Regions from separate parts of the Homo sapiens genome. Here regions 1, 2 and 3 are each linked to region 4. The links come from fine-mapping of genetic effects on gene expression. A gene starts in region 4. Each other region holds a variant in brackets. All regions are shown on one strand. Distances are from middle to middle.

Region 1 (5,961 bases), 34 kb after region 4:
CGGGGGGACGCCGACTCAGTGCTGAGCCTCACCTTCCGCAGCTTTGACCTTGCGTCCTGCGACGAGCGCGGCAGCGACCTGGTGACGGTGTACAACACCCTGAGCCCCATGGAGCCCCACGCCCTGGTGCAGTGAGTACCCCGGGGGGCGGGTAGGGCTGTGGGAGCTTGGCGGCTGCCCTGTAGGGGGCCAGCTTCTTCAACGATTGGGATACAGTTTATGACTCTTGGCCGCAGGCCACTGCTAAACATCCAGGCAGCAGGAGGCACGTGTGGTGTGATCCTCAGCTGCAGCTCCAGGGGAGTCTGGGAGGTGATTTTTCTCAGCCTTGGCAAAGCAGAGGAAGGCTCTATAGTCCCCAGATACCAAATCCAGCCTGTGCGGCCTGTGCCCTGAACCGCCGGAGAGAAGGCACTGCCCACGGTTGTAAAATGTAGGCTTTATTATTCAGGGATATGAAGGCCAACAGATCAGGAGATGACTGCTCTTGAAAAGACAATTTTGTTGGCGGGCACGGTAGCTCATGCCTGTAATCTCAGCGCTTTGGGAGGCTGAGGCGGGAGGATCTCTTGAGGCCAGGAGTTTGAGACTAGCCTGGGCAACAAGACTCTGCCTCTATAAAAAATAAAAAGCTTAGCTGGGTGTGGTGGCGCATGCCTACTCAGGAGGCTGATGCAGGAGGATCTCCAGCCCAGGAGGTCGAGGCTGCAGTGAGCGGTGATTGCACCACTGCACTCCAGCCTGGGCAACAGAGAAAGAACCTGCCTCAGGCCACATGAGGAAACACCAGGTTGGTCAAGGGGTAACAGGAATGAGGGGAAAATGTAAGCAAGAGCCTTTTATGGGCCGGGCATGGTGGCTCACGCCTGTAAGCCCAGCACTTTGGGAGGCCAAGGCGGCTGGATCACTTGCGGTCAGGAGTTTGAGACCAGTCAAGCCAACCTGGTGAAACCCTGTCTCTACTAAAAATACAAAAATCAGCTGGGTGTGGTGGCGGGCGCCTGTAATCCCAGCTACTCGGGAGGCCAAGGCGGGAGAATCACTTGAACCTGGGAGGCAGAGGTTGCAGTGAGCCGAGATCGTACCACTACACTCCAGCCTGGGCAACAGAGCGAGACTCTGTCTCAAAAAAAAAAAAAAAAAAAAAGAGCCTTTATATGGTTTACACAGAAAAGGCAAGACAAATCAGGGTGAGAGGTTTAGAACTGGCTTGTTTGAATAATTTCAGTAGGCTCCGGGGCATAGGAGCTGTCCCTAGTTCTCTGATACTTGGGCCTGGGGTGGTTAGGGCAAAGAATAGTGGCCCTGAGTGTGAGATCCTTTCGGAGGAGGTGGGGCTGGGCCCCCATAGGTGGGTTTGCATAGGGAAGGTTTGCTTGCAGGTGAGTCCTTTCCTATCTCTAAGCATTGGCCAGCCTTCCACAGTCAGCAGGGCCTCAGATGTCAAAGCACCTGCATTACAGAAAACGGAAAGGCGTGGTTAATGCACCTGTGGGATACCCCACGTCAGGGTGGGGCGTACCTCGCAGAGGTGCTGTGCGTGGTGGGTGAGCCGCCTCTCCTGCACTCGCTGGGCCAGAGCCTTCCGTGGCTGTCTAGGGAAATGAGCTCGGCGGACGTTTCCTGATTAATAATGGGCTAAAATTCAGGCCAAGAACAACCTAGAACCATCTGCCGCCACAGCTTCGTAACCAGGACTTCTTTTCCATCTCTCTAATTTATTAATTGTACAACAAAGAAGTACATGTTCCCAGTGGGAGAAGGAAATCGGCAAGCAAAAGGAAGACTAAAGTCACTCGTCATCTTACTGTCTAGAAATAACCACTGTTAATTCTTTTTCTTTGAGATGGAATCTCGCTCTGTCGCCCAGGCTGGAGTGCAGTGGCAAGATCTCGGCTCAC[C/T]GCAACCTCCGCCTCCTGGGTTCATGCGATTCTCCTGCTTCATCCTCTCGAGCAGCTGGGATTACAGGCATGCGCCACAACACTCAGCTAATTTTTTTTGTATTTTTAGTAGAGATGGGGTTTTACCATGTTGGTCAGGCTGGTCTCGAACTCCTGACCTCAGGCAATCTGCCTGCCTTGGCCTCCCAAAGTACTGGGATTACAGGCGTGAGCCACAGCACCCGGCCAAATTTTTGATGTCTATTTTCCCAGCCTTTTTTGCTGTGTGTGTGTTAAGAAATAGGATTATCCCGTGCATTCAGTCTCATTACCTGCTTTAACAAATGAAGTATATTATGATGGTCTTTCCAAATCAGTCACCCTCTCTCTCAGGGTTTTTATAAGGTTGCATTGTTTAGAAGGAGGGGACACAATCAGGATGACATGGTTGTGAGCAGTGTGGACTCTGGAGCTTGAATGCCTGAGTTTAAATTCTAAGCCTGCCACTTATTAACCATGAGATGTTGGGCAAGTTACTGAACATCTCTGTGTCTCAGTTTCCTCACCTCTGAGATAGGGGTAATAGTATCTACTTCATAGAGCTGTTAGGAAGATTATGAGTTAATAGATTTAAAAGCACCGAGAACCATGCCAGGCATGTTTTTTTTTTTGAGTCTCCTTGTCACCCAGGCTGGAGTGCAGTGGCGCAATCATAGCTCACTGTAACCTTGAACTCCTGAGGCTCAAGCAGTTCTCTGGCCTTGCCCCGGAGTAGCTGGGACTGCAGGCAAGCGCCACCATGCCCAGCTAGTTTTTTTGATTATGGAGATGAGGCGTTACCCAGGCTGGTCTGAAACTCCTGGCCTCAAGCAATTCTCCTGCCTTGACCTCCCAACAGGCTGGGATTATAGGCCCGACCTTGGCATGTTCTTAATAAATGTTGATTGTTACTACTGCTGTTGTTCTGATTGAGCCCACAGTTTATTTAATAAATCCTCTGTTGTGGGCATGTATTGTGTCTAGGGTGTTGCTCTTTTTTTTTTTTTCTGACAGTCTCGCTGTGTCGCCCAGGCTGGAGTGCGGTGGTGCGATCTCGGCTCACTGCAACCTCCGCCTCCCGGGTTCCGGTGATTCTCCTGCCTCAGCCTCTGGAGTAGCTGGGATTACAGGCGTGCACCGTGATGCCCAGCTAATTTTTGTATCTTTAGTAGAGATGGGATTTCACCATGTTGGCCAGGCCGGTCTCGAACTCCTGACCTCAGGTGATTCACCCGCCTTGGCCTCCCAAAGTGCTGGGTTTATAGGCGTGAGCCACTGCGCCCGGCTGGGTGTTGCTCTTTGATTGTGACAAAGGTGAACTGTTTATCACTAGCGCCTTCCATCAGTGATTGTGACAAAGGTGAACTGTTTATCACTAGCGCCTTCCATCAGTGATTGTGACAAAGGTGAACTGTTTATCACTAGCGCCTTCCATCAGTGATTGTGACAAAGGTGAACTGTTTATCACTAGCGCCTTCCATCAGTGATTGTGTGGGGGAGGGACTTACTTGAATGAAGGTCTTTTTGACTCCATTCTTGGCCTCTGTGGATGGGACCAGAGTTAGGGGTGGGGTCCTCAGGCACCTCTGCCTGAGAGCCTGGTTTGGGTGTGTGAGAAGCTTGGGTTCTGTCTGCTCTTCCTAATGCCCGCCCTCTGCCCCCACAGGTTGTGTGGCACCTACCCTCCCTCCTACAACCTGACCTTCCACTCCTCCCAGAACGTCCTGCTCATCACACTGATAACCAACACTGAGCGGCGGCATCCCGGCTTTGAGGCCACCTTCTTCCAGCTGCCTAGGATGAGCAGTAAGGAAGGGCAGGGCAGGGCGGGACTGCCCTCGGGCCACAGAGAAGGGGAAGGCCTTAGTGGGGGTGACCTGAGCTTAGGAGGCCACAGGCTAGACCCTGTGGTTGGCGAGCTGGCCTAGGTCAGCAGCAGAGGCTGAAGCTTGAGCCAAAGGCATCTGGCCGACCGCCTGGGTCAGGAGCCCTCCTGAAGCTTCGGCACCCGGCACCTGGCCTTCCTGGCTGTGCACCTGCTGTGCAGCATCCACGCGTCCAGGAGGCAGCTCCAGGCCTCAGGCTGCAGAGCCCTCGTCCGCCTGCTCGGCCGGGCAGGTTCCTGATCCTCTTGCTTTCTCCCACCTTCCCTCTCAGGCTGTGGAGGCCGCTTACGTAAAGCCCAGGGGACATTCAACAGCCCCTACTACCCAGGCCACTACCCACCCAACATTGACTGCACATGGAACATTGAGGTAGGAGCTATGGGGCGTGTGAACGTGTGTGTGTGTGAGCATGTATGTGCACGTGTGTGTGTCTCCCTGTGCAGATGTGTGTGGATGTGTGTGCATGTGTTTGCATATGTGTGCATGTGTGTGTGTGTGTGTGTGTGTGCGTATGTGTGTGTGTGAGACAGAGGTGGATGGCAAATGAGGAAGACAGAAGAAAAGGAAGAGGAGATCCTTTATCAACCCCAAAGAGGCAGCCAGATGTCGTGACTCACACCTGTAATCTCAGCACTTTGGGAGACCAAGGCAGGAGGATCACTTGAGGCCAGGAATTCAAGACCAGCCTGTGTAACATAGTGAGACCTCATCTCTACAAAACACTACAAAAATTAGCCAGGCAGGTGATACATGCCTGTAGTCCCAGCTACTCAGGAGGCCGAGGTGGGAGGATCACTTAAACCCAGGAGTTTAAGGCTACAGTAAACTATGACAGTGCCATCGCACTCCAGCCTGGGCAACAGTGAGACCCTGTCTCAAAAAACAACAAAAACAAATAAACAAACCCCAAAGAGACCATGTGTCTTAGGGCCCAGGGTGGGGTCAGGTCTTCCTGCAGTGTCAGGCAGACCCAGACTCTTATCTTAGCTCCTTGTCAGGTGATGGAACGACCTGGGCAGTTGCTGAAGCTCCCTGGGCCTCAGCTTGCCCCTAGGTGAAGTGAGGGTGATAGTGCCTGGGTCTCAGAGGCGCCGTCAGGAAGAAATCAAAGAAGGTGTGTGAGACAAGAGAGTCGCCTGTCCGTGCCGCTCACGCCATCCCAGCCAGAGCTGCCTCCCTTTCCTTTCTTTAAAAATGCCAGGAGGGCCGGGCGCAGTGGCTCACGCCTGTAATCCCAGAACTTTGGGAGGCCAAGGCAGGTGGATCACGAGGTCAGGAGTTCGAGACCAGCCTGGGCAACATTGTGAAACCCTGTCTCTACTAAAAATACAAAAATTAGCCGGGTGTGATGGCGGGCACCTGTAATCCCAGCTGCTCGGGAGACTGAGGCAGGAAAGTAGCTTGAACCCGGGAGTCGGAGGTTGTGGTGAGCTGAGATCTTGCCACTGTACTCCAGTCTGGGTGACAGAGTGAGACTTTGTCTCAAAAAAAAAAAAAAAGAAAAGAGGCTGGGTGTGGTGGCTCGTGCCTGTAATCCCAGCACTTTGGGAGGCCGAGGCGGGCAGATCACCTGAGGTCAGGAGTTTGAGACCAGCCTGACCAACATGGTGAAACCCCATCTCTACTAAAAATACAAAAAAAATTATCTGGGTGTTGTGGCTTGTGACTGTAATCCCAGCTGCTCAGGAGGATGAGGCAGAAGAATGGCGTGAACCCGGGAGGCGGAGGTTGCGGTGAGCTGAGATCTTGCCACTGCACTCCAGCCTGGGCGACAGAGCAAGACTCCATCTCAAAAAACAAACAAACAAACAAACAAACAAACAAACACGCTGGGAGAACTTTGCAACCTGTCTTGGTGATGGAAGGCATACCATCTCTCCCTGGTCCATGCCGCTGCCTCCCTTTGACGTCCTCAGGTTCAGGGAGGAGGGAGGGGAACTGCACATTCCCAGCAGCCTCTCTTCCCTCAGGTGCCCAACAACCAGCATGTGAAGGTGCGCTTCAAATTCTTCTACCTGCTGGAGCCCGGCGTGCCTGCGGGCACCTGCCCCAAGGACTACGTGGAGATCAACGGGGAGAAGTGAGTCCCCGGGGGTATGGGGGCTGCCGGGCCCATGCTGCAGGGGGAGGGGTCCCACCAGACCCCCAGCCCCCCG
Region 2 (6,057 bases), 50 kb after region 4:
ACAGGATGCCTCTCAATTTGGGTTTTCCCGACTGTGTTTTCATGGCTGAGTTAGGAAGCAGTGCGCGGGCGGTGCTGTACCCTACTCGGGGAGAGCAGGATCCCCCGTGAAGGGGGCTGGTCGGGAGAGGAGGCTGAGCACCTGGCTCGGGACGCCCAACAGGTTTCGCCATCATAAAGGGGCTTCCCCCTTGGTCGTGACTACACTGCAGGTGATTCTTTGAATCAGCGTGAGTGTCTCGTTCTCCAGCCGTACTTTGCCCGGCGTCTCAGCGTCCGTTGGTGATTCTCACATTGTTGATTATTATTGTGGCAGGCGCGAATGTGGTTCCTTATTGTACCGTTTCTTCAGCATTTAGGGGCTGCTCACTCTTTCTTTCTTTCTCTTTCTCTTTTCTTTTCTTTTTTTTTTTCTTTTTTGAGGTGGGGTCTCACTGTGTTGCCCAGGCTGGAGTTCAGTGGTGCGATCTTGGCTCACTGCAACCTCTGCCTCCTGGGTTCAAGCAATTCTCCTGCCTCAGCCTCCTGAGTAGCTGGGATTACAGGCACCGGCCACCACACCTGGCTAATTTTTGTGTTTTTGGTAGAGGCGGGGTTTCACCATGCTGGCCAGGCTGGTCTTGAACTCCTAACCTCAGGCGATCCACCCACCTCGGCCTCCCAAAGTGCTTGGATTACAGGAGTGAGCCACCATGCCCGGCCAGGGGCTGCTTTTTCTCTGTAAAGAATAGCTTTCCTTTTCCCTGTATAAATTCTTTTGAAATTACTTTTTAGACTCAGGGTGGACTGATGGATTACCCCACCCTTTTTTATTATTCCACCTGTGTAGTAGTGTCACCCTGTCACCACTTATTTCGGGGTTCTTATTGTCCTAACTTTAGCCAGCTTTGTGAGGCCGCATTGCTGTTTGAGTGCTCGATCGCTTCCTGCAGAAACAAAATGTTCCAGGTTGCTTTATGCTTCCCATTAAGCCCCAGATCCGAAATCAGCTGTTTTTCCAAGGAGCCCTGGTTCCTTTCAATAGAGAAGGATATTTAGACACTAAGTTCTGGGTGCTGCTGGAGACAGTATTGGTTTTAGGCCAGTTTTTAAGAATTGTGAGCCAGCGGGCACGGTGGCTTATGCCTGTAATTCCAGCACTTTGGGAGGCCAAGGTGGGCTGGTCGTTTGAGGTCAGGAGTTTGAGACCAGCTTGGCTAACATGGCGAAACCCCGTTTCCACTAAAAATACAAAAATTAGCCAGGCGTGGCTGCACATGCCTGTAGTCCCAGCTACTCGGGAGGCTGAGGCAGGAGAATCGCTTGAACCTGGTAGGTGCAGGTTACAGTGAACTGAGATCACACCTCTGTACTCCAGCCTGGGTGACAGAGTGAGACTTCGTCTCAAAAAATAATAATAAAATAAAATAAAAACCATGAACCTTTCCTGATATCTCTGATCTCATTCCACATCTGTGCCTCCCTTTCCCCCCAGTGGGGTGGGCTCCGGCTCTGCAGTGCACGTGGAAAAGCTTCTGAATTGCTAAACCTATTCCATAGCCAGCAACAAACTTAGACACAACACAACATATTTTTCAATTCATTTTGGTCTTAGGTTATATAGCACTACATTAAAAATTTATTTGGGCTGGGCGTGGTGGCTCACGCCTGTAATCCCAGCGCTTTGGGAGGCCGAGGCGGGCGGATCACAAGGTCAGGAGATCGAGACCAGCCTGACCACCATGATGAAATCCCGTCTCTATTAAAAATACAAAAATTAGCTGGGTGTGGTGGTGTGCACTTGTAATCCCAGCTACTCAAGAGGCTGAGGCAGGATAATCGCTTGAACTCGGGAGGTGGAGATTGCAGTGAGCCGAGATCATGCCACCACCGCACTCCAGTCTGGGTGACAGAGCGAGACTCAGTCTCAATAAATAAATAAATAAATAAATTATTTGGATTGATTGTTCTGTTATTCCTCCTGTGAAAGATCAGGTTCGTAAGATAACTAATTTTTGGTCATCAGATTAAAAATGTATTCAAGGAAGGGGGGGTAAAGAGTTCAAGAGGGATTTCATACTGCAGCTGGAGGCACTTAGTAGTTTCTAGCTTAGGGTCAAGACCAAGTAAGAGCCGGCCCCATCGTCTTCTCGTAGCAGCAGCTGTGCCTCATCCATGCGGAATCCTCTGGGAACGCGCGGGGCCGCGAGGCCGTGTGCACAGACCCGAGTGACCGCGCAGTCTCATAGCGGCTCTCCCTACCAGGTACTCAGACCCCACGCAGTGGACGGCCTTCCTGGGCTTGCACGACCAGAGCCAGCGCAGCGCCCCTGGGGTGCAGGAGCGCAGGCTCAAGCGCATCATCTCCCACCCCTTCTTCAATGACTTCACCTTCGACTATGACATCGCGCTGCTGGAGCTGGAGAAACCGGCAGAGTACAGCTCCATGGTGCGGCCCATCTGCCTGCCGGACGCCTCCCATGTCTTCCCTGCCGGCAAGGCCATCTGGGTCACGGGCTGGGGACACACCCAGTATGGAGGTAAGCTTCGGGCTGACCTAGGGCTCCGCAGAGGGCCTGGGGCCTTTCTCCAAGGCCGTGTTTCCTCTGCGTGTCCGGTCTCGGGGCGGGGGGCTGCTCCAGTCTCCCTCTGCCTGGCAGAATGAGGCTGTCCAGGGCGGAATGGAGGCCTTTAGTAAAAGGGGCATGGGATTTGCAGCCTGGGCTCAGGATTGAAGGTTGGCTTTGCCCCTAACTAGCTGAGTGACCTTGAGCGAGTTGCTTAAGCTCTGATCCTGTTTGTGCATGCGCGTAATGAAGATAGCAACACCTTAAGCCCAGTGGTGCTTAAGGCACGTGAGGGGGTGGGTATGAAGGGAAGCAGGCCGTTAGTTGGCAAATGCTAGATTGAAAGAATCCACTGTACAGCATATGCTGAACATTTGTCGTCTTTGGAGAGGAAAGAAAACGAACAGGACTTACAGCTCCAATGCCCTCACAGAACCCCGCGGGCATTTGCGGCGCCTTCCCTCCGCCTCTCTGCTTCTTGTTCCCTCACCCCTGCTTGCCACGGCGTCTGTTCCCTCTCAACTCGCCTGGCAGATCTCAGCATGCCCCTGCTTCCTCTAGGTGGCTGCTATTGCCAGAGCCCACTGAGTAGACGCGGATTACCCGTTTGTCAGCCCCGGGCATCTG[G/C]GCTGTTCCAGAGTTTTCTAGTCCAATGACCCGTGGGGAGCGTCTCGAATGACGCTGCCCTCGAAGCAGCCCGGCTCTCAGCCCCGTCCTGCCCTCTCCCCAGGCACTGGCGCGCTGATCCTGCAAAAGGGTGAGATCCGCGTCATCAACCAGACCACCTGCGAGAACCTCCTGCCGCAGCAGATCACGCCGCGCATGATGTGCGTGGGCTTCCTCAGCGGCGGCGTGGACTCCTGCCAGGTGGCCCCCGGGGCAGGAGGGCGGCAGGTGGGCCCCGGGAGAGGCGGGACTGGGGACTCACGGCAGGGCTTGTCTCCGCCCAGGGTGATTCCGGGGGACCCCTGTCCAGCGTGGAGGCGGATGGGCGGATCTTCCAGGCCGGTGTGGTGAGCTGGGGAGACGGCTGCGCTCAGAGGAACAAGCCAGGCGTGTACACAAGGCTCCCTCTGTTTCGGGACTGGATCAAAGAGAACACTGGGGTATAGGGGCCGGGGCCACCCAAATGTGTACACCTGCGGGGCCACCCATCGTCCACCCCAGTGTGCACGCCTGCAGGCTGGAGACTGGACCGCTGACTGCACCAGCGCCCCCAGAACATACACTGTGAACTCAATCTCCAGGGCTCCAAATCTGCCTAGAAAACCTCTCGCTTCCTCAGCCTCCAAAGTGGAGCTGGGAGGTAGAAGGGGAGGACACTGGTGGTTCTACTGACCCAACTGGGGGCAAAGGTTTGAAGACACAGCCTCCCCCGCCAGCCCCAAGCTGGGCCGAGGCGCGTTTGTGCATATCTGCCTCCCCTGTCTCTAAGGAGCAGCGGGAACGGAGCTTCGGGGCCTCCTCAGTGAAGGTGGTGGGGCTGCCGGATCTGGGCTGTGGGGCCCTTGGGCCACGCTCTTGAGGAAGCCCAGGCTCGGAGGACCCTGGAAAACAGACGGGTCTGAGACTGAAATTGTTTTACCAGCTCCCAGGGTGGACTTCAGTGTGTGTATTTGTGTAAATGAGTAAAACATTTTATTTCTTTTTAGGTAAGTTTCTTTTCCTACTGGAGTTGCGCCCTCCTTCCTCCTTTTTCCTACTCGATTTGCAAGAAATTGGATGTACATTCCCCTCAGCACAGACCCTGGAGTCAGGCTGGGTGGGGCCCACAGTGCCGTTGCCTTCTCTAGGCCAGCAAGGGGCTGGTTTTGCTCTGACCTGTAGCTTCCAAGACCAGGGGCCTGGTGCCCTGGTAGGAGGGAAATGCGGGTTGGCGAGGTGGGGAGACGAATGTTGGGGGGTGCACTGGTGCCCAGGCCTGGGTCCAACCTAGGAGAGGGAGGAGCTTTGTCAGAGGAAGATGGGCGGAAGCGTGGCTTCGTGTTTGGTGGGGAGGTGGCCCTGTGAGCGCACACACTCACGGGGACAGATGTGAGTCTGGGCATGAAGACCTGGCTGTCTCTCTAGTGAAGGCTGAGCAGATGGGTCCCAAGGCCTTGGAGGAGGGGTGCTGCCTGGCTGAAGGGCACCCACACCTCCCGTGCCATCCCCCTTGATTTTTTCTTTTTTCTTTTTTTTTTTTTTTTGAGTCAGGGTCTTGCTCTGTCACCCAGGCTGGAATGCAGTGACATGATCACAGTTCATTGCAGCCTCAGTCTCCTGGGCTCAAGCTATCCTCCTGCCTCAGCCTCCTGAGCAGCTGGGACTAGAGGTGCCCACCACCACACCTGGCTAAGTTGTTTTTTTTTTTTTGTACAGACAGGGTCTCACTATGTTTCCCAGGCTGGTCTCGAACTCCTGGGCTCAAGTCATCTTCCCGTGTTGGGCTCGTGCTGAGCCACCACCCCCAGCCTCCCTAGATTTTTACTTAATAATTTAAAATATTTCCTCTCTTCTTGCTTGGTGGCCTGAAGGGACAATGTCAACAATCTGGGGAAGGCTTAGGGAGCTTTTGGGGGAACATTTGAGGGCTTCTTGTATGCTGATGCGCCACATGGGCTTGGGGCAGGGAAGAGGACCTGGGGAGAGAAATGACATGGCCAGTGTCAGGAGGGCAGAAGGTAGCCTTGGCTCACCGCTATGTCCCCAGCTCAGGCTTGTCTTAGAACATGCTGATATGTGTTTGTTCAATGAATGGTTTTTTGCCTGCCATGAGTTATGGAAACAAAAAGGAGGAAATATAGTCTGATTGGAGCAACACTGCAAGGCTTCTCGGGGGAGGTGGGGTTTGCAGAGCCTCTTTCATTTTAGCCTGAGTGTTTTACCTCTTTGAGGGAGGGAGTGTTGCCTAGAACCTGTGCGAGAATCTGTCGCATTTTCCTCCCTGGGGAGGGAAAGAACATCTGTTCTTACCAAGGCGTGGGAAGTAGAATGAGGATGATGCTGAAGGACTCCTGTGCGTGTTGTAAATGTCATTCCTTTTCTGCCCTGACATGGTCATTCCCACCTGATCGCATCGGACAGAAGTGCCCAGTGCAGGCGCTGAGGGAATGGTCTATGTTAAATGGAGAGGTTTCACGAGGCCTGTGTGTGGTCTGGTTCCTAAGTGTGCGTGAGCCTGGCAGCCGGGGCTTGGCCGGGGTGTAGACATGGTCATCCATGCAGTGGGATTCAGGGAGGCCAGCCCAGCCCGTGCCACTGCACCACCCTCAGCTCCATTGTGGCTTGACAGTGTTCTGGACTGCTCACTCCCCCCGGTCAGATTCCCACCCGGGGAGCAGGTGAAAACACAGATGGCTAGCCTTCAGGGTCATCCCACCCTTTCCGGGACTCTCTGCGGGAGGTCTGAGTGGGACAAGGCGTGTCGTCTGTGGCAGTGTTTCTCTCGGGAGGTCCCTGGGCAGGAATATCGAGATCTCCTGGGACTCATAGGTGCAGAGTCTCATGCTTCATCCAGACCTCCTGAACAG
Region 3 (6,057 bases), 390 kb after region 4:
GTATTGAAGCAGGTAAAAGAATTCTCCCTGGGGAATGGAGGAGAAGGGGAGGCTGGAGAGAGAGGGATGTGGCACGTCTTTCAGACGTGACTCTGGGGTCAGCCATAAACTGGTTCCATCATCATCACCAGGGAGCTTAAGAATTTAGCTCAAAGAGTCTGATTTTCTGGGTTGGGTTAGAATCCAGGAAACTGTTTTAAAATGAGTCCCCTCCCCAAATTCCCAGGTGAGGCTGATTAACATCCGGATTTATGAAGTCATTGGCTGGGGGTCTGTGTCCTACAGCCTCTGGGCCCAATCCAGCCTGGAGCCTGTTTTTTATTTTATTTTTTAACTTTATAAACTTTTTTTTTGTCTTTATGTGCAGTCTTTATTTCAACTATTTATTTTTTCTTTTTTTTGAGATGGAGTCTCACTCTGTCGCCAGGCTGGAGTGCAGTGGCGTGATATCGGCTCAGTGCAACCTCCGCCTCCCAGGCTCAAGCGATTCTCCTGCCTCAGCCTCCCGAGTAGCTGGGACTACAGGTGCCCGCCACCACACCCAGCTAATTTTTGTATTTTTAGTAGAGATGGGGTTTCACCATGTTGGCCATGATGGTCTCAAACTCTTGACCTCATGATCCACCTGCCTTGGCCTCCCAAAGTGCTGGATTACAGGTGTGAACCACTGCACCCGGCCTCAAATATTTCTTAAAACACTGTAGTTATTTCTTAGGACAAGAGCAAAGATCACCCCCTGCAGAAACTCAGTAACTATATACAGAGCTTTGCAGAACAGAGACAGTCACTAAAGGCTGGCTGCTGGCCAGGGAATGGCATTCTGACTGGACTCAAGGAACAAAAAGAAACCAGGTTGGAAAGGGGCAAGCGCTCAGCTGAATTAAACTTCAGCTTCCATCAGGGCATATCTTGTGATGCTCACAGGCTCTGTTTCTAGAAGGTTTGGGTTCAGCACAAGATTCCATTTGTCTGCTTGGCTACACCCCCAGCTGAAGTGCCAAGAGGTCACTGTCACTCATGTTCCTGGCCAGCCAAACTCCTGAAGCAAAGAGTCCCGAATTGAGGATTAAGTATCTCTGGAAATCATTCCTATCAGTGGCAAAGCCATAGCTGCCATGAAGCCAATTTCCCACATTGCCCAGATTTTGGGTGATACATTTGCTGAGCTGGCAGTGCTCACAGTGACCACTGGAAGCCATAGTAGTGCTTTTGGGCTCTGCCAACTTTAAAAAGTGGATACATAATATTTACACAAATTTGTGGGGTACATGTAATATTTTGATACATACATTGAATGTGTAATGATCAAATCAGGGTATTTAAGGTATCTGTCACCTCGAACGTTTATCATTTCCTTGTTTGGGGAACACTTCATATCCTCTCTTCTAGCTATTTTGAAATACACAATATGTTGTTGCTAACTGCACTCACCCTATTGCGCTATTGAAAACTAGAACTTGTTCCTTCTTTATATTTGAGACAGGGTCTCACTCAGTCACCCAGTCTGGAGTGCAGTGGTGCAATCATAGCTCACTGCAACCTCAAACTAAATCCCTGGGTTCAAGGATTCTCCCACCTTAGCCTCCCGAGTAGCTAGGACTGCAGACCTGTGCGGCTAGTTTTTTTCTTTTTTTTAAATTTTCTGTAGAGATAAGATCTTGCTATGTTGTCCAGGCTGGTCTCGAACTCCTGGACTCAAATGATCTTCCCACTTTGGTCTCCCAAAGTGCTGGAGTTAGAGGTGTGAGCCACCGCGCCTGGACAGAACTTATTTCTTCTCTCTAACTGTATGTTTGTGTCCATTAACAGTCCTGTCTTTATCCCCCTATAAGTAGCTTACAGCTAAGAATGTTTTTTACATTTTTTTCTCCTTTTTTTTTTTGATGGGATTGCACAGTTTATTTCCAAACACTCAGAGGATAGGGAGTGGCCTGTGGGCTCCTTCTGCCTCCCCTCCCTGCATTTGGCTGAATCAAGAACTTCTCCCCCTTCACCCCCAACACCCTAGGCTGTGCCCGATAGAGAAGGTACTCTCACCCCCACACTGAGGAGAGACCCAGAAAGGTGAGGAGCATGGAGGGTCGGGGGACAGAGTTCAGGTATTCACAGTTCCCTATCTCCACCCCTGGATTACACTGTGCCAGAGCCATGAGGGAGGATCCCACCTCTGGGATTCCTGTGGTGTTGATAGTCCTTCTCCCACTTAGAACCTTCCAGATGAACTCCCTACTCCTTATCCCTGAAATAACAAACCAAGCCCTAAACCAAGCCCTGTAGTCTGGGCGGGGAGGGGCCTTAGCGCATCACTCACCCAAGGCCCCCAGGGATGGGGGTGAGGGCCTTCACCTGTAGTGAATGGGTTGGGAGCAAGTATCTATAAGGAGAGAGGAAGGGAGAGAGCTGAGAGGACCTTGGGAGGCAGGCTTGGAGGCTTCTGACACATAAGTTCAGACAGCTCTGGCCTGTTACTCCACGCCGCCCCACACCCCAAGCCCAGAATCCCTGAGAGTCCAACTGCAAAGGCAGTATGGCCGGAGGGAGGAATGGGGGCACGGGGAGAGCTGGGTAGGACCTTGGTCCCCCTCTCCCAGTCAGTCCTGCTCCTGGGACACATGATGCTTAGGGACGGCCAGGACCAGGATCAAGTCC[T/C]AGCTCTTAGGCTCTGATCTTCCAGAATAGCTGAATCCTGGGGCACGTAGTGTAGACCCACCAACCCCCACACCCCAGACATCCCGGCCTTGGGTAGAATGGTGGGAATGGGCTCTCCCAAGGGTATTATAAAAAGCTAAAACCGTTAAACACTTACTGGGGAGGAGTGGCTCCCAGTCTCTTGCTTCCCCAAGTTATCAGCCTCTGCAGCGCCTAGCAGACAAGACTAAGGAGGTCCCAGAGAGCCAAGGGAGGAGGGCACAGCCCCTGGGCCCAGAGAGAGGGCCCACTAGCACCGTGCAATGTTGAGGTGCCTCCGCAGCCTGACTGGCCCCCACGCAGGGGCCCTCCGCAGCGGGGGTGCACACTTGCTAGAGCTTCTGTACTTTTGAAGGGTGACCCCTGCAAGGGAGTGGGGAAGGCAAAGACTTGGCTTAAGTCCAGGCAGGGGTCACAGCTGGGACCCCAAAGGACACCCCTGGGAGTCATGATTTGAAGAATCTTCTTACCACAAACTGGCCCAGCAGAACCACACCCACAACCACCAGCACGTTCAGGATGGGACTATTGCCCAAGTCCAGGGCTGCCACCCAGCCGCCCCTCTGCGAGATCCACCGGGCGATGCCTTGTTGCAGCATGAAGACCACGAAGCGGGTCACCAGGCCCAGGAAGCCAGTCAAGCCGTGCTGGTAGACATGTAGGACCAGACGGTAGCCGAAGCCCAGGAGAGCCACCACACGGCCCCGGTTGATGCCACTCTCAAACAGGCTGGAGGCGATCTTGGTGAAGTACTCGTAGGCGTTCTCTGCCGTGGGCTGCAGGTGCTGCAGCATGGTCTGGAACTCCGAAGTCATAGTGCCGGTTGATGTCGTCCTGGTGATGGCGAGCTGCCGTCCCACCTGCCCCATGGTGCTGCTAGGTTGGAGGGGCAAGGTGACCATCTCTGGGTCGGCAGGGGCGGCCGCCCCTTCAGCCTCCTGTTCCTGCTGATGGTGGTAAAAAACGTAGCTGCGGAAAACCCCTCCATGTCCTGGGCTACCTGCTCCTCAGAAGCAGAGGGCAGGGCAGGCTTTCCGCACTCCTGCCTGGGAGGCCCTGGGCCTTGCCCCGATGCCATTTTTCAGGTCTCAGTGGAGGACAGTGTCAGCCTCCAGGGATGCTGGCTCAACCCGCGTGGGTCAGCAGGGTGGAGTTGAAGGTCCCAAGGGGCTGGAGGCTGCTGCTCCCAGGGGCTGAGTGGGAGCCCAGCTTCCAGGAACGGGCGTCAGTGCATTTCTGGTATCTGGATGTAGCCTTTGCTTGTCCCTGTGTGGCCCGAGGGACCCGTGAGACTCCAGTGATCATCTGTTTTTTTACATTTTTAAAGCATTGTAAACAAAATAATACAAACAGGGAGCAAAAAAGAATACATGACAAAACTGTAAGTGGCCTGCAGAGCCTAACATATTTATCATGCTACTTGGCCCTTTACAGAAAATGTTTGACTATCCCTGGCTTAGATAGGGAAAATTAAATGCATAAATGAATAAATAGATTTTTCAACTGATGAAGAGGTAACGAAGTCTGCAAATTTTCTACCATGGGTCACTCTCCACACAGGCGAGGGAACCTTTGCTCTGAGTGTGGTTCTTATTGGAATGGGACGCACTGTCACTCTTTAAACAATGTATTGTGCCTCAGGTGCTGCAAGGTACTGCTATGCTCACATGGACAAATTAAGGCTCTGGCTAAGGTAAAAATCAAATGGGCTGCCCACTAAAAGGGGTAGTTCAAATTATTTCAACTTCACTTTTGTTCAGCTAGGGAGGGAGAAAGTAGACTAGGCCTTGGAAGGTCAGGGGAAAAAAAAATACCAGTTACACAAACATAAGGCTCTTAAGCAGGCACTTGTTGTCCTGAGATGAAGGTATAAGCAAACTTTTTGAAATATGGCTTAGCAAATGCTGTCTTACTTTTCAGTGTGCAGACCTGGACAACAGGCAGGTGGGGAGGGATCTGTTTGTGAAAGGATCTGATCCCAGAACTCTCTTGAAAAGGAAGGGCGCGGCTGCCACTAGACTAGTTGCTCAGACTCAAGATAGTGGCTGAGATTGTAGGCAAGGGCTGGTGTTTGTGTCATGCGTGCTGCACCTAGCTGTCCTGCTAAGGGATTATGATTTGAGAAGCAATGGTTCGGGGTGGACTGTGACAGAAGATCTGTGACATTGGTGCCCATGTGGTATCCCCCAGCTAATGCCCACTCAGAAATCCATTCTAGCTGCAGGGGCAGATGCTGACTGCAGGGTGTGTCATCAGAGCAGCATCCGTGAAGCTGGTGAGCCATTTGGTCAAGGGCAGGGTGAATTTGGGTTGAGTAAACCCTAGAGTTCCTGGAAAACACATGGACACAATCACCTTAAGAAAGAGACACTAGGCTTTTTCTGCTAGAATGTCATGGGCTTGAACAATTTACTAAAAAACCCAAGGCAATATTTTAACCTGGAGTTTGCATAGCTTGGCTGCACATACTCATTCATTCATTCCTGTACAGATACACAGATGGGGGTTTAGAGAAGTGAAGAAGCTTGGCCAAGTCACACACTGGGTGGAGTGCAGGAATCTAAACCCAGTCTTGTGTGTTTCCAAAGCCTGCTCTCTGTCCACAGTACCCTATTGCCTCTTGTAGAGTCGTAGATTATTAGCGAAGTCTTACAAATTATTCACCATTTTTGAGTGAGAAACTGAGACTCAGAGAAGTGAAACAACTTGTTCAAGGTTGTTTAACTAATTACCAGAATTCCTACAGACCTGCCTCCAGATTCAGCGGGTCTGAGTTGCCATAAGCTTCTAAGAACTTCTTATCAAAGGAACTGAGAATGTCAAATGGAGTGAGTTGAAATCCATAGGGACAAAGAAGCATTGAAGGAAAAGTGAGATTTGCAAAGTGAGCCACATTTTGCTTTTTCCTAACGACCTGTTTGTTGATGTCCTCTTTGAAAGGGCTTCTAGGAGGCAGGAAGGTATGAGCTACTTTTGGCAGTTTGGCCCCAGAGATTACCTGTTTATTTATTTAGCACTTTAGACATTAAGTTGGCTAATATAAAGCAATTCCCCTAAAGTCTGGAGTTCATGGACATAGACCAAGTATAGGGAAAGTAGTCTTCTCCATTCACCTCATGACCCCAAAAGATCATGAGTCTAGGTTGATCCCCAGCCAGTGGCTACATCTGTAACTTGACTACCCTGATTTCTCAATCAGCTCAGCTACAAATGGCAGTGGAAAAGATGCCCAAGAAGGGTCTTGAAATAAATGGAAATCTTTCATTTCCTGTTCTGGTCTCTATCCAAGAAGCTGCCACTGCCCAAGGGAGGCGCCCAAAGCCCAGTGTTCTCTGCAAGTCAGAGTCAGTTTTCAAAGCACTGAAGGTA
Region 4 (6,057 bases):
GTGTCGAATTCATATAAACCTTGTTGTTTCAGAAGGTTTAGGTACATTTATGGATGCCAGCTCCATAACCGGTTCATTTGACTTTATTCTGTTCATTCTCAACCTCTACCACACCTCTTTGCTGTTTGCACTTTTCTTCTTTATTGAAGGAGCATGAGTCGCCTGCAGGCCTGGCACAAGCTGCTCTGGTCTCCCCGCCTTGGATGGTACCAGAGCACTGGCTGTTTCACACTTGGGCTGGGCCTACCTCACATGGCCCTACTGTCTCCCACATTGTCACCAGCTTCAGCCAGTGTCCTTTAGCCTGTGGGCAGGTCCACATTTGCACACCTTCTAAGTGGTCCCGGCCACAAGGACATAGGGGCTTGTTGGACATGCCCTTGAGGGGGTCCCAGGGACACAGATGTAACTTTCCCAGCAGGCAGTCCTGGAACCAGGAAGAGGATGGCTCCCTGGAGAGGAGCGATGACAGCTTTGCAGTGCTGGGGCCGGGGAAGGGCCAGTGAGGGGGTGGTGGAGAAGGCACAGTGGGTGGTGAAGGTTGGGTCATTTGGTCATGAGTCACTCTTTCTATAGCAGAGAAATGACACGGACCTCAAGCCAAAATCTGGGCTTGAGTTGGATTTGTTCCTTGTGAGTGTGAGAATCTGGTCCTGTTCTGGAGGCTGTCTGCTCTTGGGTTCCTTCACTTACCATTTAGGAACAAAAGCACTGACATTTCATAATTTTTTGAGGATTAAACCAAATGGGATTCATGGAATAACATATGGTTACACTGCCTCCTCCAACCCAGGAGTGCACATAGGGTGCATGCAGCAAGGTATCCCCATGCAGCCATCCTAGGGGAAGGGTCTTGTCCTGCATCGCTTTCTCTTCATCTGCACTAGCAGTCAATGCATTGCATTCATACGGCATCCAAATCACGCTGAGCGCCCAGCTCTACGAGATAAAAGATGAGGCCCTAGGAAGTGGGGAGACAACGTGAGTCACTGCGTTTGCAGCAGCACAGAAGGTCTGTGTGTCAGGAGTACCATCTCATTTACGTCACATTGAATTTGGCTTACTTTCCATCACTCACACTAGTTGAAGAATGCTGTGCCATTGGTAATCCAAAGGAAAATTTATTTTTATATATTTTCTTTTTCTTTTTTTTCTTTTCTTTTTTTTTTTTTTTTTTTGAGAGATGGAGTCTCGCTCCAGGCTGGAGTGTAGTGGCATGATCCCGGCTCACTGCAACCTCCACTTCCCAGGTTCAAGCAATTCTCCTGCCTCAGCTTCCCAAGTAGCTGGGACCACAGGCATGCACCACCATGTCCAGCTAATTTTTGTATTTTTAGTAGAGATGGTGTTTCACTATATGTTGGCTAGGCTGATTTCAAACTCCTGACCTCAGGTGATCCACCCACCTCAGCCTCCCAAAGTGCTGGAAGCCAACGTGCCAGCCTTTTAGAAATATTTTCTGTTTAGCTTTGGAATGCTTTATGTGATGGAAGGCAGCAGATTCATTCTTCTTTCAATTAAATTGACCCAATATATTGTGTTAGTCATTGTGCTAGGCTTTGAGGGTGCAAAGGCAGTTAAGACACAGACAGAAAATGCAACGAAATGGTGGTGAGCTCCATGAGAGAGGTACAAACAGAGCTAGTTCTGGTTGAGAGGGAAGGAAACTCCTGGGGAGGAGGTAGCATATCAGTCAGGAAGCGTGAGGTTTGCAGCAATAACAAACAACCCTCAGCTCTCGGTGGCTTAACATCCCAAAAGCTGACTGACTCCTCATTCATGCTACATATCCAGTGTGTGTCATTGTAGCCACTTAGGGTCACAGGTCACAGAGTTAAACCTCTCAGAAGAGAGCAGGGCATTGTGCAGTGCCTCCTTATGCTGCTATGTACAAGTGGTGTGTCCTCTCATTGGACATTTTCTTGGTTACCGCTAGCCATACTGCCATACCTAACTTCAGAGAAGAGAGAGTAACACCCTGGCCTGTGCCCAGAAGGCAGAGAGCTAAAAACATTCAATGAACAACACTAAAAAACCCCATCGGTGTCTTCGACCCAATATGCGGAAGGAGTATGAAGGAGAAGAGCTTCCAGGGGATGAAAAGCTTTATGAAAGCTGCCAAGATCAGAACGCCTGGCTGGAGAGAGGGGCTCCAAACAGGAATGCTTGGAGGCACGGTGTTAAGGGAGGACAGGGCAGAGTGTGAAGCTGGGCTAAGGAGGTTGGATTTGATCCGGGAGACACGGAAAGTCATAAAGGAGCTGTGGTTTCAGATTTACCTGACTGCTTTGTGTAGGAGAGATCAGAGGGTGGCAGCCCAGAGGCAGGAGATCTTTCTTAACCAGGCAAAGGGCTCTGAGGACTCGAATAGCGGTCTTCTAATGCGCAGGAATGGAAGGGCTATGCTTGTCAGCAGAGTCTTGATCAGATTTGGAACTAATTGGATATGAGATGTAAGCAGGGTGGAGAATCAAAGATGATTCCAGGATTTGAGCCTGGGAGAATGCTGCCATTAGAATTAGAGAAAACAGTGGAAAATGGGCAAGTCAGGGAAGGAAGATGGGGCTTGTTGATCTCAAAGCAGGGATTTTTATTTTGTTCACTCCTGTTTCCCTGTACCCAGGACAGTGCTTAGCGCCTAGTGTGTGCTTGGTAATGTTCATTGGCTACAGAATACAGTAGAACATAAATGGAGACGTCCCCAGGCGACCGCTAAGGCAGAACTGGCACTCCTTGGTGGTGTCTGTGCTGGGAGGGAGGTCTTCCTGTCTGAAGTCGTAAGATGAGACGTGCTGCCAAGAGAAAAAGCTTAGAGAAGAAAGGGATGAAACTGAAGGGAGAACTTTGGGAATCATGACATTTAGGACTAGAAAGGAGGACCGGAATCCAGGGAAAGGGGGCATTTGAGGAAGCATCAGATGCTGCAAGTGGGCGAGGGGCGTTGGGATGGCTCAGAGGGCATCTGGTGGCACAGCTCATGTCACTGGGCCTCCCCAGGGTAGCCGGGCGCAGGCCAGCAAGCGCCTCCCGCCTGGAGAACAGGAGGCTGCGTAGCCGACGGGGAGCCTGGGCCAGGGGCGGTTCTGGTTTCTGTTTGGTTTTGGGGGGTTCATAAATGCGATTTAGTCCTGTAGCAAAGTGAGCAAGGTGAAGGGGAGAGACCGGAGGCGCATGAGGGAGGAGGGAAAAGATGGTTGGCATCAAGGAGGTGGATAAAGGGCTGCCCTCCCGGGGCAGGGCCCCTGGAGGGCCGGAGGGGTGGTGAACGCCGTCGTGGTGATGGTGAGGGCCTTAGCGACCACCACCCGAGTGAGGCCCCCTCACCTTCAGGCCCAGAGCCGAGGGGAGGAGCCTCCCCCAGGGCCGGCGGGGGCGGGCAGGTGAGCCGGGCAGGTGCGCAGGCGAGCGCGGCGGGCTGGGCGGGCCGAGGCCACACCCTGAAACTACCTGCGTGGGCCGGGCCGGAGTGTGAGAGCGGAGCTGCAGCCGGAGAAAGAGGAAGAGGGAGAGAGAGCGCGCCAGGGCGAGGGCACCGCCGCCGGTCGGGCGCGCTGGGCCTGCCCGGAATCCCGCCGCCTGCGCCCCGCGCCCCGCGCCCTGCGGGCCATGGGAGCCGGCCGCCGGCAGGGACGACGCCTGTGAGACCCGCGAGCGGCCTCGGGGACCATGGGGAGCGATCGGGCCCGCAAGGGCGGAGGGGGCCCGAAGGACTTCGGCGCGGGACTCAAGTACAACTCCCGGCACGAGGTGAGCGCGGGCCGGGGACCCGGGGCGCTGGGAAGCTCCTGCCCGCCCGACCCTGCAGCGCGGCGCTGGGCTCGGCCGGCTCCCCTGGCGTGTCCGTCGGTGGCCGAGCTCTGGGCGCACAGGTGGAATTTCCTGTTCAGCGGGTGCCGGGCCGCGGGCGGGCGGGGCTGGCCGGACCTTTGGTACCGGACCGGCTGCGCCCCGCCAGGGGGAGGCGGGAAGCCCCTGGGCCTTCCTGCGCCCTCGGTCCTTTCTTTCCCTGAGTTGAAAAAAGGGGCTCCGTCTCGGCCCCTCCATGACTCTCGCGCTGTTAGTGAACATCTGGAAGAAACCAGGGGCTTGGAGTGGGGTTATTTGGGAGGAAGTGAAATTTCAGGAGGGTTTGGAGTCTCAGCCATCCTTGGCCTCTGCAGAAAGTTTCTTTCGTCTCTCTCCTTCCCCGTCAAAAGGCGCTTTGGGACCTCGCAGAGGACAACTGGGAGGCCAGGGCTTTGGCTGCCATACGGGCTGGAGCTAAGAACTCCAGAGTTGGGCTTGCCTGGGCTTCTCGAGAGGGGATGGAGCCCTTTGGGAAGGCGGCTGTATGGGAAGGGATGTGGGAACACACATGTCTTGAGCCTTTTGCGAAGTACCGAAACAGGAAGCTCTTCTTTGGCAGAAAGAACAATGAAAGACCTATTGAAAGATCTCAAAAAGATTACATGTTCCTGTATGGAGTTGGGGATGGGTCGCTAGTCACTTCATTGACGGACCCACCTAGGTGGTAGTGCCCGGGCGGGACCAGCAGCCAGGTCTCTACCCTCTCTGTCCAAGGCAGACCCCCAGGTTTCCTGGAAGGCCAGGGCATACCAGGTCAGGGCGGCGCTGAGAGGCAGGGGCTGTGTGGCAGAGAGTTTTGCTCCTCTGCAAATGATGGCCTCCCTGCCCTGCCAACCCTCACTTTCTCCCCTCCTTCCGGGTGCCCCTGGGCTCCATAGTCTCCGCCGTTGCTCCCTAAGTCAGGCCTGATTTTGGTGCTGTCTCAGATCAATTCCTTTTGTCCAAGCAGCATCCCGACCTAGGGAGCTTGCAGAAAATCAGACGCTGGGGCTTTGGAGGCTGCCTGCACCACAGACAGGACCTGGGGCTGGGCTCTGCTATTTTCTCCACTTTTCACCCTCAGCAAGGAGGAAAGCTTCCAGTGGACCTGAAGGCTTGGGCCCTTCCCCTGGCTGTGCCTGTGCCCTGCTGTGAGGCAGATTCACCTTCTCTTCCTTGCTGTAATTGCTATGTTTGTGTCCTTGCTAATTGCCTACTTGGGGTTCTAGACTCCCTGCCTCTTCAGCAGAGAACCTGCTGTTTGGAATTTGTTATTTCAGGGCAGTCCGGTGCCCCCACCCCAAGTTTGTTCTCCCTGACTTCCCTTTCTAGGACTCTCCTGCCCACACGGGGAAAGCAGGGTCTTCCTGGTCGTGTGGTCCAGCCTCCTCTCTGAGCCATCTCACCACCTGACAAGCAGCCAGGCTGGGGCTCACCTTCCACTCACCCCCAGGATCCCACATTCAGCGGACTTGTCTTGTCACCTGCAAGCCCTGGCTTTAGTTTCCCCCATCCCTGCTCATTTCCTCCTCCTCTGCGAAGCTCATTTGCTCTCTGCGCCCTTGGGCTGTTCCTTCCCCCTCTGCCATTTTCATTCTCTTGGCTTGCTCTTTGTCTTTTCTCCTGCCGAGCTTTATTGAACTAACTCAGTACCTAGTCCCATGGGTGAAGGGAAGGCTCTCAGAGACCAGTAAGATGTGGTTGTTTCCTTTAAAGAACATCCAGTCTTGAGAGCGAAACTAAGAGACGAATGCCAAAGTTAGCTGTGAGGCGGAGTGTCCAGAGGAAATTGGCCAAAGCTCATTTCCATGTCTTGCAGATTCCTCCCATCCCTGGCCTCACCAGAAATCCCAGTCCCTGGGATCACCCTGTAGTGTGTGTTTGCAGCTAGGATGTCCATCCCCGGCCGGGAGGTGTGGCTGCTGCCCCTGGGTTTATTATCTGGGTCAGCAGAGCCTGGCCCACAGGGTGCTGTTGTTTCTGGGTTCCTTGTCCCCAGTTGCATCCATCCGTGCACCCTTGTTTGGTGGTATTTGTATCTGGCTGTCCCCTTCCCAAGGCTGGTGGTGTGGCCCCTGCCCCACCCCTGCTGTTCCCATCAAGTGTTCTGCGTGGCCTTCAGAGTCCTGATGCACGTTACTGCATCTGGGGATGGTGTGAGCCCTGCCTGCAAGCAAGCAGGGAAACAGATGCCACTTCTTATGGCCATTAATGAGAGCCAGGGAGCCTGCC

Evidence for each region. PIP is the estimated chance that this variant, and not a neighbour inherited with it, causes the effect. A credible set is the group of variants that fine-mapping cannot tell apart.
Region 1: its variant is the best candidate, but not a certain one, in a credible set for the expression of ST14 in nasal epithelium (TOPMed, PIP 0.87).
Region 2: its variant is the best candidate, but not a certain one, in a credible set for the expression of ST14 in cerebellar hemisphere (GTEx, PIP 0.88).
Region 3: its variant is the best candidate, but not a certain one, in a credible set for the expression of ST14 in B cells (Schmiedel 2018, PIP 0.59).

Annotation. Positions count from the first base shown.
Region 1 is chr11:130,190,564-130,196,524 of GRCh38, forward strand. It overlaps ST14 (ST14 transmembrane serine protease matriptase), which reads left to right. Exons shown (of 19, transcript NM_021978.4): 7 at 1-131; 8 at 3,586-3,725; 9 at 4,077-4,174; 10 at 5,776-5,885. Among named protein-coding and RNA genes, the nearest start is that of ST14, 34 kb to the left of the region's middle. The variant C/T (reference allele first, on the strand shown) is at 1,902.
Region 2 is chr11:130,206,167-130,212,223 of GRCh38, forward strand. It overlaps ST14 (ST14 transmembrane serine protease matriptase), which reads left to right. Exons shown (of 19, transcript NM_021978.4): 17 at 2,244-2,518; 18 at 3,276-3,412; 19 at 3,496-4,196. The coding sequence ends at 3,657. Among named protein-coding and RNA genes, the nearest start is that of ST14, 49 kb to the left of the region's middle. RefSeq lists an enhancer at 3,444-3,943. The variant G/C (reference allele first, on the strand shown) is at 3,173.
Region 3 is chr11:130,543,662-130,549,718 of GRCh38, forward strand. It overlaps the pseudogene BAK1P2. Among named protein-coding and RNA genes, the nearest start is that of ADAMTS15, 98 kb to the left of the region's middle. The variant T/C (reference allele first, on the strand shown) is at 2,650.
Region 4 is chr11:130,156,314-130,162,370 of GRCh38, forward strand. ST14 (ST14 transmembrane serine protease matriptase) reads left to right here and starts at 3,469. Exons shown (of 19, transcript NM_021978.4): 1 at 3,469-3,747. The coding sequence starts at 3,667. RefSeq lists silencers at 3,348-3,467, 3,548-3,617 and an enhancer at 4,705-5,204.